Linked DNA regions of Homo sapiens. The protein of the gene in region 2 purifies or fractionates together with the protein of the main gene of each other region. This does not show direct contact. Each region holds a gene or a part of one and is shown on either strand. Other genes may lie near its edges. The genes, in order: DNAJB4, BAG2 and HSF1.

Region 1 (3,600 bases), on a different chromosome or scaffold from region 2:
TTGATATTATTTCTTGGTGAGGCTAAAAAAATTGATAAATAGCTGACAAACCTCTGTAACCTACAGGTAGGCTAGATCAATGTTATACATTTCTAATGTCATGGTGTTGTTAAAGTAGAGAATTTTGAAGAGTAGAAAATCGTAGCTGTCAAAATGCACAAAGATGAACATTCAGAAAGAATTGCTGAATCATCATTGCTTGGCATATAGAGTAGGCGTTCTCATTTCTTTAAAGGTTAACACATGATTATTACCCTTTATTATATTCTAAACATATATGTACATTTTCTTTTCCTCATAAAGGTTTTCTAACATTTTATTTGGACTGTGTGCAATTCTTCTGACTTTTCTTATTTATCTCTCTAATAGAAATGGGAACATTTTTGAAAAGATGAGAAAACCATACAGGAGATAAAAGATGAGTTATATACATAGAAAATGTCTCATAAATACCTGAAATATGTTATACTTTCAAAAGCAGGCATCAAAAGGGTATATAAATGCTATGATCTAACTTTGTTAACAAAAAATTATAAAACTACAGCAAATAACCATGAAGATTTATAGAAAACAGAATTAGAAGTAAATACAGTAATATTTAACAGGGATTACCTAAAATGATATTATAGGGAGATTTTTAAAAACTTTTTTCTGCGTTTTCCAAAATCTCCAACAATGAATATATATTTATAATTAGGGAAATGTGTTTTTGAAAGAAAAAATATTTCTCATATTACTGCCCCTTAAGTGGCATATCCAAATTTTACATTGATGCAGTTGCAGTTAAGTCTTGTAAGGAACATGAGTATGTACTGTCTGTAACCTGATACTTTGTTCTAGCTTTCCTGCAGCACCACAGTTCTTTAAATAGGGATCCTGTGGGGCGGCTGCAGGGGACGGGGGTTGAGGGGTGGCAGGGACCTCATTCAGTTTTAGTTTAGTTGAAGTAACTAAGTTCAGATACTAAAATTTCAAAAATAAGTATTTGTTTGCCAGAACTATGAACTCATGTATACTAGAAATAACTAGTTAGCTAAAATCATGTTTAAGTCCTTTACTTATTTTAAAATAACGCATTTGAATTTTATTATAGATACTCCCTTAACAATGTGAAACTAGTACACAAACTTTCTGGCGTTTCTGATTGATAGACCCCAGGAATTTTGAAGACGACATAAATTACTTGGAAATCCTAATTTAAACAACCTGCGTTTTGGTATTATATACTTAACAGACAAATAGCTTAAAATTAAAAAATCCCTAAAGTAGAATTGTCGTTCCTTTTATCTGTATATTAACTTTAACTTCTTTTAACATAGGGTGTTTAATGACTGTGATGATTTTCACCTAGTATGGAGTACATAAATATATAGTTGTGACATTCTGTGTTGAAATATTGGCATGTTAACCCATTTGTCCTGTTTAATTAGGAAATAAAGACGGTAGAGCTAGTCGGAAAATGAATAGTTAATCGTGGAGGAGGAGAAAACATAGCTCAGTACTTTGACTAGAGGCAGCTGGGAAAGTGACGTCCTGTAGCATTTGCTGTTCTAGAAAGTACAGAGACACGTAGTGAAAATGGGAGGATCTAGAAGGAGGCTGTCTCCTGTGTAGTGTATATTTATCTGTAAGTGAGCCGTTGGGGAAGGATTGAATACAGAGACGCTGTCTGCTTGCTGCCTTAAGACAGCTAGCTGAATTGCTGATTAACTTTTAAAATACCCAGCTTGGTTTATTTTTCTTAGAATCTGTTGCTAAGACTGGGGACGCTGTTTTCTTTTACAAAGGGAAATCTAAGTTAATTTCAAGGCATTCGAAATGGGGAAAGACTATTATTGCATTTTGGGAATTGAGAAAGGAGCTTCAGATGAAGATATTAAAAAGGCTTACCGAAAACAAGCCCTCAAATTTCATCCGGACAAGAACAAATCTCCTCAGGCAGAGGAAAAATTTAAAGAGGTCGCAGAAGCTTATGAAGTATTGAGTGATCCTAAAAAGAGAGAAATATATGATCAGTTTGGGGAGGAAGGTAAGTATTCTCTGTATATCTTTCTGTCTCTTCAGCTCTGTCTCTTTTTTTTTTTTCTCTCTCTCTGCCAGCCTTTTTCCCCTCTCTCTCAGCTTGTTAAGGTTATCCTTAAATTGGATTCTCAGTCATATCAAAAGTAGAAGGACAAATGTATAATAACAAGGTTTCATCTCTGATCATATGAATGAGTATTGCAGAGCCATGAATGAAATGTCCTTGTTTGCCTTTTTTATTTTAGCATTTTGTATTATACATATTTTATCATTAGACTTACAATGTTAACAATGTATATTTTAAAATAAACCTTGAATTCCCATACCTATTAGTAAATTGTGTCAAAAGTCTTATGAAACCTGTTTCGTTTTCTAATGAATTTTCTGCCAGAACCAATAAAGAGTCTTTAGTCATTTAAAACCTTAAGATTGGCATTTCAGATTCTGAGTAGTTTATAGCTTATTCACAAAAACAAAAAGTAGTTTTTTGCCTTTCTTATAGCAAGGCTAGTTTAGACTGAACAAGACAGAGTTGTGACTCTCAGAAGCAGAAGGCGCAGGCATTTAGCTTCTAGTTGTTTTTGGCATTCTGCCTGGAGAGGAAAGAATTTTCCTGATGTCATAAAATACCAGAACAAGTTTTTAGCTTAATTGTAAACAATAATTTTGTGCCAAGAAAATGAAATCTCAGAAATACAATTTTTGACCTAAAATGGCCACCTAGTTAGAATAATTACTGATTTACTTTTAGATAACATTATTTATTTAGAAATTTTACTATCTAGGTATAGAGAAAAACATGACAACTTCCCTTTCCTCTCCCTGCCATACTTTTGTTTTTTGCATTGTGAGATCAAAAACTAGTGAGCACAGTAAAGGAGGATAATTTCAGATTATCCTTTTCTCATTCTGCATTTTAAATCAGGTTTGTCCATCACTTCCATATAAACGGGGCTATGAAGTAAGACTATTTTAAATTGCTAATTGATAACACAAAAAACTTTAACTTGTACTGTTTTGGGGATTTTCAACTTTTAACATCAGGACTAAGTTATTTTATTATTAGTTTTTCTCCCAAAATACTGGCTTTCAAATCACTGTAGCTATGAAAACTTGTTATCCCTTTGATTCCTTTATTACATTTAACATCAAATTTTCCTAATTAGAAATATATCCTTAAAATATAGTCAAGCAGTGACTGCTTATTTTGAATGAAACAAATTAAATGTAGACAAGCAGGGTGATTGTATATAGAGGGTTTTTTCCTTTTTGTTTTGTTTAGCTTTTTTGGTCTATGAGTTGCCCAAAATTGAAGTTTATGTTGCAGGTTTTGGTGTGGTGAGGACCTACAGTGTCAGGTTCTTACAAAGTAAATATTGAAAAAGGCAAATACTGGGCAGTTCAATCTTGCATGATACCTATGGCCATATTACCCAAAATATCATGACTTGGTTTATCTCAAAAGCTAAGCAGGATTCTGAGATACTACCAATAATGTACTACTATTTCTAAAGGAGTAATTTTGTAATTTTGTAAAGAAATTCACAAACATGGAATGACACTGTGAATTCCTGTGAA
Region 2 (3,829 bases):
CAGCTTGGAAATGTGGATCATAGCTCTTCAAGTCTGTGATCAGAAATCAATGACCTCCATTAAAAACTCCATTGCAAAAAAATGGGAAAAATAATGCTAAGAATACCAAGGTCAAGGAGGCAGAGCCAGAATAATTTGTGTAGAAAAAGTCCTGGACTGATGTGGAAGCCATGGGAAGCAGGGAGCAGTAGTATTTCCCAGAGTGGAAGGGATTTACGGATGCTGACAATACTTGAGAACCTGAAGAAAACATGACTATCCATTTCTTAATTTTCAAAAAGCTGGTCAAGAAAAAAATGATGCACACAAAAAATCATCTCACAGTCTGATGACAGCAAATCAGTCTGCTAACAAACCAAGTGGCTCTGCCATAGATAGAATTAATGTTTCCCATGAAATGCAAAGATTTAAATAAGGCAGAGTTGGAGCTGGCAAAGGAAGTAACATGAATGTCTTCAGATTGTAACTGCTTTTTATAAAGAGACTAACTTGGCATTTTTGTAGAGAAAATGAAGTTTGATATTGCTTGCATTGAGAGATATATACATACATAAAGTCAGTTTGGATCTTGATTTGGTTTTTCAGTGTGAAGAATACCTACATTCAAATAAAAATTGATGTGTTCATTTCAAAATAGTATCCAGGGAAGTTGTTGTGGTTTTTGTATATCAATAGGACTAGTTACTTTGAACAAATAAGTGTTCTCTAGTTGCTTCACACTTTATCAGATAAAAGAAGAATCAACACACTGGTCAACCTTTTTAGTAAACAAAATGCAAACTAGGTATTAATGCTCAGTGCTGGAAATATTTCAGTGAAATAGCTATATTTTAATTACTGAAAAAAGTATAAATTGCTGTAACCTTTATACAAAAAAAGTTTAATATGTGTGAGGCCATGAAAACGTCTATATCCTTTGACCCAATATAATTCACTGCTGGGCCTTTATACAGAGAAAAACAAAAATGAAAGAAGGAAAAAGTCCTGTGTACAAAAATATGTTGCAGTAATAGCAACAAGTTGGAAACAACCTAAATGTCCATAAAAGAGGAATGGATAAAGATATAACTACACAAAATAGAGCTCATTAAGTTGACAATTAAGCAGACTTTATATCAGCATCTAACTTTTTTAAAAAAAGGCAAGTTACAATATAGGAATTTTAGAGAATTGATGCATTTGAGAAAAGATGAAGCAGATAGATATATAATTGTTCACAGTGGTAAATTATAGGTGGTTTTCTCACATTTTATGTCAGTTTCTTGTATATCAAAAAATACATTCATATTATGAGACACAGGAATCTTTACATCCAAAATAATTTGATACAGATGCCTTAACATTGCTGAATGAGACAACTTTGGAAAGATTCTTGTTTTGTGATTCCTTTTTACCCTCTAAGCACAGTGCTTTGTTAACACTGTGTGTGTAGTAAATGTGTGTGCTGCTTAAGGTAAAGAATTTCTAGTAAACTAAATGCCCAAGGTGACTGCGTGATTCCATGCCAGACAGGAAAAAGCAGTCATGCTTTTTGCCCCTAGCTGAACGTTTGTTTTCCCCACAAACTATGTATTCATCCACAGAATAGTGAAATATGCTAGATCCTAGTACAAGACAAGAATTCAATCTAAAAAATCTCTAGATAGATAATTAAAATATTGCTAGTTTTGTTATTCACAAAACTGAAGATACTTGATGGAATATTTTCCTCATCTGAAACAACTATCAGTGTCAACTAAGTGGTTATACCTAACAAAGAACTAGTTATCAATTAAAATAGTATTTTATCATTTTTACACCTTGTGTATTGTGTAAATGCTCTTAGGTTTGAAGACTAATTGAATCTGCTTTCAGCATTTTGTTGCAGAGTTTTGGAACCAGCTCCTTTAGAATGCTCTAATAGCTTGATGGCCTTGTCAGAGTTTTCAATATTTCTAAGCAGAGTCTCTAATCTTCTCTTAATTTTCTTCTGATCTTCAAGAGCACAGCCAATTACTATGGATTGAAACTTCTGATCAACTGGCCCATGTGGCACCTCAGATGAACATGCACTGTAGAGCGACATTAAATGACTCTTGGCATTTCCCAAATCATCCAGAAACTTATTGACCACCTCATCAATAATCCTTGTGGCATGCTTTAGGGATTCTTGCTGCTGGGGGTTTCTAATTGTTTCTACTGACACTTCAACGGTGAGAGTTCTTCCCATCAAACGGTTTGCAGTCAGATTTAATTCTTCTCTTTCTCCTAAAAATCAATATGAGATGTAAACTTATCTGTGTCAAAAACATTAAGGCATTTGTTTGTGACTAAATTTATTATTTTCTTTACCTCTGCCATGAAATTTTTTTAGAGATAAAAGCTGAAACTATAGCATGTAAGATTAACTGATGAAATGTATTAGATTACAGAAAGAGGTTGTAGAATACCACTTCCTGACAATCTGCATATATGGGATACCAGATGACTTCTCAAATTGGCATGTCTGCAAAAGTTTGGGTAGGTATGCATTTGTAACTGGGATGGAGATCAAGTCTTAACACTGTGAGCAGTAAGCACATATAGGGTTTATGCTGGGTAGAGCTCCAGAGATCAGATGTCCCAGATCTCTCCAGAACGACATGTGCATTTATCAGAATACAATGCCCCAAATTTTGGTTGAGAAAATGTAGCCACGATAGAAGATAAGCTGTCTTCTGTCGTCAATACTAGGCACTGACTTCATCCTTCTCCAGATAGAAGCAGGACAGTGGTCTAAAGTCTTGGCCAGCACGAGGAGCTCTATCAACATTTCATTATTTATATGAGAAAGTCAGCAAGCTCCTGCTTCTGTAACTTCCTAATTCATTGATCTTTGGGCAGGATAGCGTAGAGACTAGATCATGGCCTACCTATAGATGTGTAACAGTTTTGATCTGGATTTAGGTTGCTTACTTACCTCACCAGCCACTTGGCCCAGTACCATGTGGCCTGTGTGGCACCAAAGGAGCCCAAGTAGGAAGTCCAGTGCCAATAAAAGAAAATCAGAAGTGACCTATTCCTATTTCATGTTCTTCACATGAAAATGACAGCACAGGTTAGGCAGATGTCACATGCCTGTAATCCCAGCACTTTGGGAGGCTGAGGCAGGCGGATCACCTGAGGTCAGGAGTTTGAGACCAGCTTGGCCAACATGGTGAAACCCTGTCTTTACTAAAAATATAAAAATTAGCCAGGCGTGGTGGCACGTGCCTGTAATCCCAGCTACTCGGGAGGCTGAGGCAGGAGAATCGCTTCAACCCAGGAGGCAGAGGTTGCAGTGAGCCAAGATCGCGCCATTGCACTCCAGCCTGGGTGACGAGTAAAACTCCATCTCAAAAAAAGAAAAAAGAAAATGACAGCACATTTTTACATTCATGCCTTTTATTGGTCCTACAAGTTTCCTCATTTTCTCTGCATTTTGTCCCTTCTCTTTATGTTGTACCTCAATTCATCTTTTTTTTTTTTTTTTTTTTGGTCTCTACTTCTCTGCTTCCACTCTCTCACCCTCTTCCTCTGCTTTTTTAATCTCTTGCAGTCCAGTAACTTGTGAGGAACTGAAGTTAGGACTGTGAACCTGGGATAAAACACATGGCCTTACTGCTTGGGGCCAGCTTTTCTGAGCTTGCAGGCTTTTTCCTATCTCTCCTAGCCAGGGGCTTGGGGTAGAGAGCATGCTGGAAGAAATCTCTGAGTAAGTGGCTGCTGTAATGAACTGACAGCTGCAGCTGCTCTCTGTGGCTCACATTAAATGCTGTGGCCTGGTGTACGCATACCAAAAGTCAAGCAAAAATTGACCCACACTTATCAT
Region 3 (3,829 bases), on a different chromosome or scaffold from region 2:
TACTGAGCCTGGCCAGGAATGGGACCAGGTCTGGACCACCATTGCACGTCCCCTCCCTGGCCTGAGATCAGGACTCCCACTGCAGCCACTGGAGGCAGAATGCCGGGTCACTGCCCAGGAGACCCCATTGGTGGGGACTGTGGCAGCTACCCCATCCCTGTGTTGTTTGATTTCCCACCCCCCCCTCCCAAGACCCTCATTCCCATGAGCACCCCACCCACACAGGCAAGGGCCTTGAGGGGACCCAGCAAGTCGTGGAGGACAGCACAGCCTTGGAGAGGAAATGTGTCAGCCACAAGGTTATGATCCCGGGGATCCACATAAGAGCATGGGCGTGCACGTGGGTGGTCCTCCCTCAGCCAGCTTCTCAACAGCTTCTCCCAAAGGTACACCTGGATCCAGTACCACTGAGACCCAAAGACGGGGTTGGGGGACTGAATACCTGGACTGACAGGCACCTCCATAGAACTGAGACCCATGAGACCCGGGACCCGCAGCCTCCCTGCCCCGTGCCCTGGTGCCGGCCCTCAGCCCAGCTTCCTCGTCTGCATGCAGCAGCTCCTCTGTCCACCAGCAGAGGCTCTTCTAGGGCCTTGCTGGGCTGCAGCTGACTCAGGAGGGCAACAGCCTCTTCAGAGAATTTGACAGCATGGAGAACCAAACAAAAGCAGAAAGTGAAGCCTCAGAACTGGGTTCACCATCATCCCAGTTTTTTACAAGCTATGATTTTGTCCCATCTTTATTAACAAGATAAGGAAGTATGAAAAGTAATCTCGACATCTGAGATGGTGAGATTACAGCCCCAGGAGCCACCCAGCTGGCTGAGGAGCCTGAGAACAAGGCACAGCCACATGACCTGTGCCAGACAAATGCTAGAATGATGGTCACGCAGGTTAGAACGAACCCAGGTAGACGGAGGCCTCAGGATCAGGGTGAGGCCAGAGGGGGCACCTGGGTGCAAAATTTAAGGAAGCACTTTTTGTTTTTTAGATAAGGTCTCGCTCTGTTGCCCAGGCTGGAGTGCAGGGCTATGATTGCAGCTCGCTGCAGCCTCTGCCTCCCAGGCTCAAGTGATCCAGTCACCTCAGCTGAGTCACTGGGACTACAGGCTTGCACCACCAGACCTGGCTTTTTTTTTTTTTTCTTTTTAAGGTTTTAGTAGAGACAGGGTCTCGCCGTATTGCCCAAGCTAGTCTGGAACTCACGGGCTCAAGCCATCCTCCCATCTCAGCCTCCCGAAGTGCTGGGATTACAGGCTTGAGCCACCGCGCCTGGCCCTGAGGCATTCCTTTTTAAGACCTACCTGCATTCGGATGGCGCTGGGAGTGGGGGCCTCCTTAGATGTGGGCTCCTGGATGCTTCTCTGTCTTCACCTGGCCCCAGCCTCATGGGTGCAGCTGGAAAGACTCTAGAAGGATGTGCTGAAACCCTGGGGCTCCCTGAGACTGAGTGAGCTGGAGGTCACCAAGGCCCTCGGCCTATCGCGGGAGAGAGTTCCATTGAAAGCCAGTGGTCAGGTGGCCGCTGTGGAGGGTCTCTGGGTGGACAATTGGGAGCAGAGTGGTCCCTGCAGTGAGGCAGGGGGCAGGGCCTGAGGGGTCCCTGAAGTAAGGCAGGGCAGGGCGTCCACTCATAAGCACACGAGGAGTTGCAGAAGCAGAGCCGACCTGGCCACGCTCAGTCACTCAGACCCTGGTCACAGATCGTGTCCGGAGCTCCCACGGCAGGCAGGGCCACCCCTGCTTCCCTGGTTCTGAGAGCCGCCAAGACCCAGCAGGCCCACTGGCCCCACCCTGGAAGATCTGGTATTTGGCCCAAGATGCTGGAGGCCCCACAGCAGCAGCTGTGAGAAGTGCTGCAGGGTCTGGAGGGCCTGATGTGTGCCCGGACCATAGTGCCTCCTGGTGTGGCCATAAGAAGGCACACAGCTGGGGCTGGTCGTGGTGGCTCACGCCTGTAATCCCAGCACTTTGGGAGGCTGAGGTGGGCGGATCACGAGATCAGGAGGTCAGGAGATTGAGACCATCCTGGCTAACATGGTGAAACCCCGTCTATATTAAAAAATACAAAAAACTAGCTGGACGTGGTGGTGGGTGCCTGTAGTCCCAGCTACTTGCGAGGCTGAGGCAGGAGAACGGCGTGAACCCAGGAGGCGGGGCTTGCAGTGAGCTGAGATCGCGCCATTGCACTCCAGCCTGGGTGACAGAGCGGGACTCCATCTCAAAAAAAAAAAAAAAGAAGGCACACATCTGTCCTCATACAGCTTCTGTGCATAGCACAGAAAAAATTAAAAAGGCTCTGTGCTGTAGCCTCCTGTGTTTCCTCTGCCCCGGATGGTGTGGTGGGGGGGGTGCGGTGAGGAGGGGCCCAGGGCACAGAAGGGCTGAGCTGCAGTGGCCTCCTGGGGGGAGGCAGATGCCTCCGGTGCCCCATGCCCACCCAACTCCACAGGCTAGTGTTTGCTCAGTCCTTTATTGAGGGACCAGGGATGGACAGCCTGGCCCTGAAAGTCTCTCAGTTTTGGAGGAGTCAGCCTGTGTGCAGGGCGAGCTGGAGAGGGGTCGGTGGGGCTCACAGTGCCTTCCCAGAGGAAGCAAGCAGCTCCCATCGGGTATATTGAGGGCTGTTGGCTCCAGGGTCTCCTCAAGGTCTGGCAGGTGGAGGGGAGGCTGTCTAAGGAAAGGAGGTGGTCCCAAATGTCTCAAGGCACCTGGCAGCAAGGGCTGCTGCTGCCTCAGCCTCCTCCCTGTGACCCTGTGGGCCATGGTGAGCAGCAGTAGCCACCACACTTGTGCACGGCAGCCAGTGACGAGATGTGATGAGAGATGAGGGCGATTGTGCTGCTCTTGGTCCTTGTGTGGCGAGAACACGCTGGAAGCTCCTCCAGAGCGGAAACAAGAAGAGTGTTTATGAGAAAGGTGCGGGTGGCTCAGATGTGGACAGAACCAGACCAGGGAACGGGGCCACAAAGTGAGCCACTTTGTCTGCACCTGCTCGCGCTTCCTGCCTGCCTCACTGCTTCCATGCCCTGACTCCGGTGGTCCCTGCTCCCCACACGTGGGCCACAGCTACTCACACACGCGCTCCCTTTGCTCCTAAAGCCTATACTCCCGGGACCCGGAGAGGGAACAGCCGGCCAGCCGAGCCCAGGAGCCCAGATCACCGGTCAGCAGATACAGCTTTGACTTGGCAGGAGGCTGGAACAAGAGGCTTGTGGCCTGGGCTGTGGGGCCACCTTGTAGAATACGGCACTGTTCACGTTTTGGGCCAGGGAGCCCTTTGAGAAGATACTCAGAGACACAGACACTTTCTATGTAAGGTGTCCCTACAGGCAGGATCTCACACACATTTCAGGTCCTTCACAGTGCTGCAGAAAATGAGGCCACAGGCTCCAAGTTTACTGCAAGCTGCGGGGTTTGCTGACACCTACACTTCTCAGCGTGTGGCATCTCGCACCAGCCAGGGGCCTCCCATTTCCAGTGGCAGGTTTTCGTGATATCCAGTTATGACCGGTGACTCCTCCAAGAGGTGCCTGTGGTCAGCAGAGGAGGGACCTTGTTCCACTGAGGCAGGAAGATGAGAGAGACACTGGGTTCTCTGATGGGTTCACCAGCAGACCCTGTGAAATTCATAATGGCCCCTAAGGTAGGGGTTGCCTGACATGTTCAACTTGGATTTAACCCTTAAGGCATAAGAAGCCGCTGAAAATGTTCAGACGTTACAAAACTAGGGCCGGGCACGGTGGCTCACGGCTGTAATCCCAGCACTTCGGGAGGCTGAGGCGGTTGGATCACCTGAGGTCAGCAGTTCAAGACCAGCCTGACCAACA

What was found.
Region 1: the proteins of BAG2 (region 2) and DNAJB4 purify together in Homo sapiens (affinity purification with mass spectrometry; 4 studies listed by BioGRID and IntAct, with this or other methods). This does not show direct contact.
Region 3: the proteins of BAG2 (region 2) and HSF1 purify together in Homo sapiens (affinity purification with mass spectrometry; 3 studies listed by BioGRID and IntAct, with this or other methods). This does not show direct contact.

The regions. Positions count from the first base shown.
Region 1 is NC_000001.11:78,003,293-78,006,892, forward strand, and holds the start of DNAJB4 (dnaJ homolog subfamily B member 4), read left to right. Parts: upstream 1-1,646; 5' UTR 1,647-1,818; coding exon 1,819-2,029; intron 2,030-3,600. UniProt on the Homo sapiens protein: Probable chaperone. Stimulates ATP hydrolysis and the folding of unfolded proteins mediated by HSPA1A/B (in vitro).
Region 2 is NC_000006.12:57,182,196-57,186,024, reverse strand, and holds part of BAG2 (BAG family molecular chaperone regulator 2), read right to left. Parts: intron 2,248-3,829; coding exon 1,835-2,247; 3' UTR 1-1,834. UniProt on the Homo sapiens protein: Co-chaperone for HSP70 and HSC70 chaperone proteins. Acts as a nucleotide-exchange factor (NEF) promoting the release of ADP from the HSP70 and HSC70 proteins thereby triggering client/substrate protein release.
Region 3 is NC_000008.11:144,294,585-144,298,413, forward strand, and holds part of HSF1 (heat shock factor protein 1), read left to right. Parts: intron 1-3,829. UniProt on the Homo sapiens protein: Functions as a stress-inducible and DNA-binding transcription factor that plays a central role in the transcriptional activation of the heat shock response (HSR), leading to the expression of a large class of molecular chaperones, heat shock proteins (HSPs), that protect cells from cellular insult damage.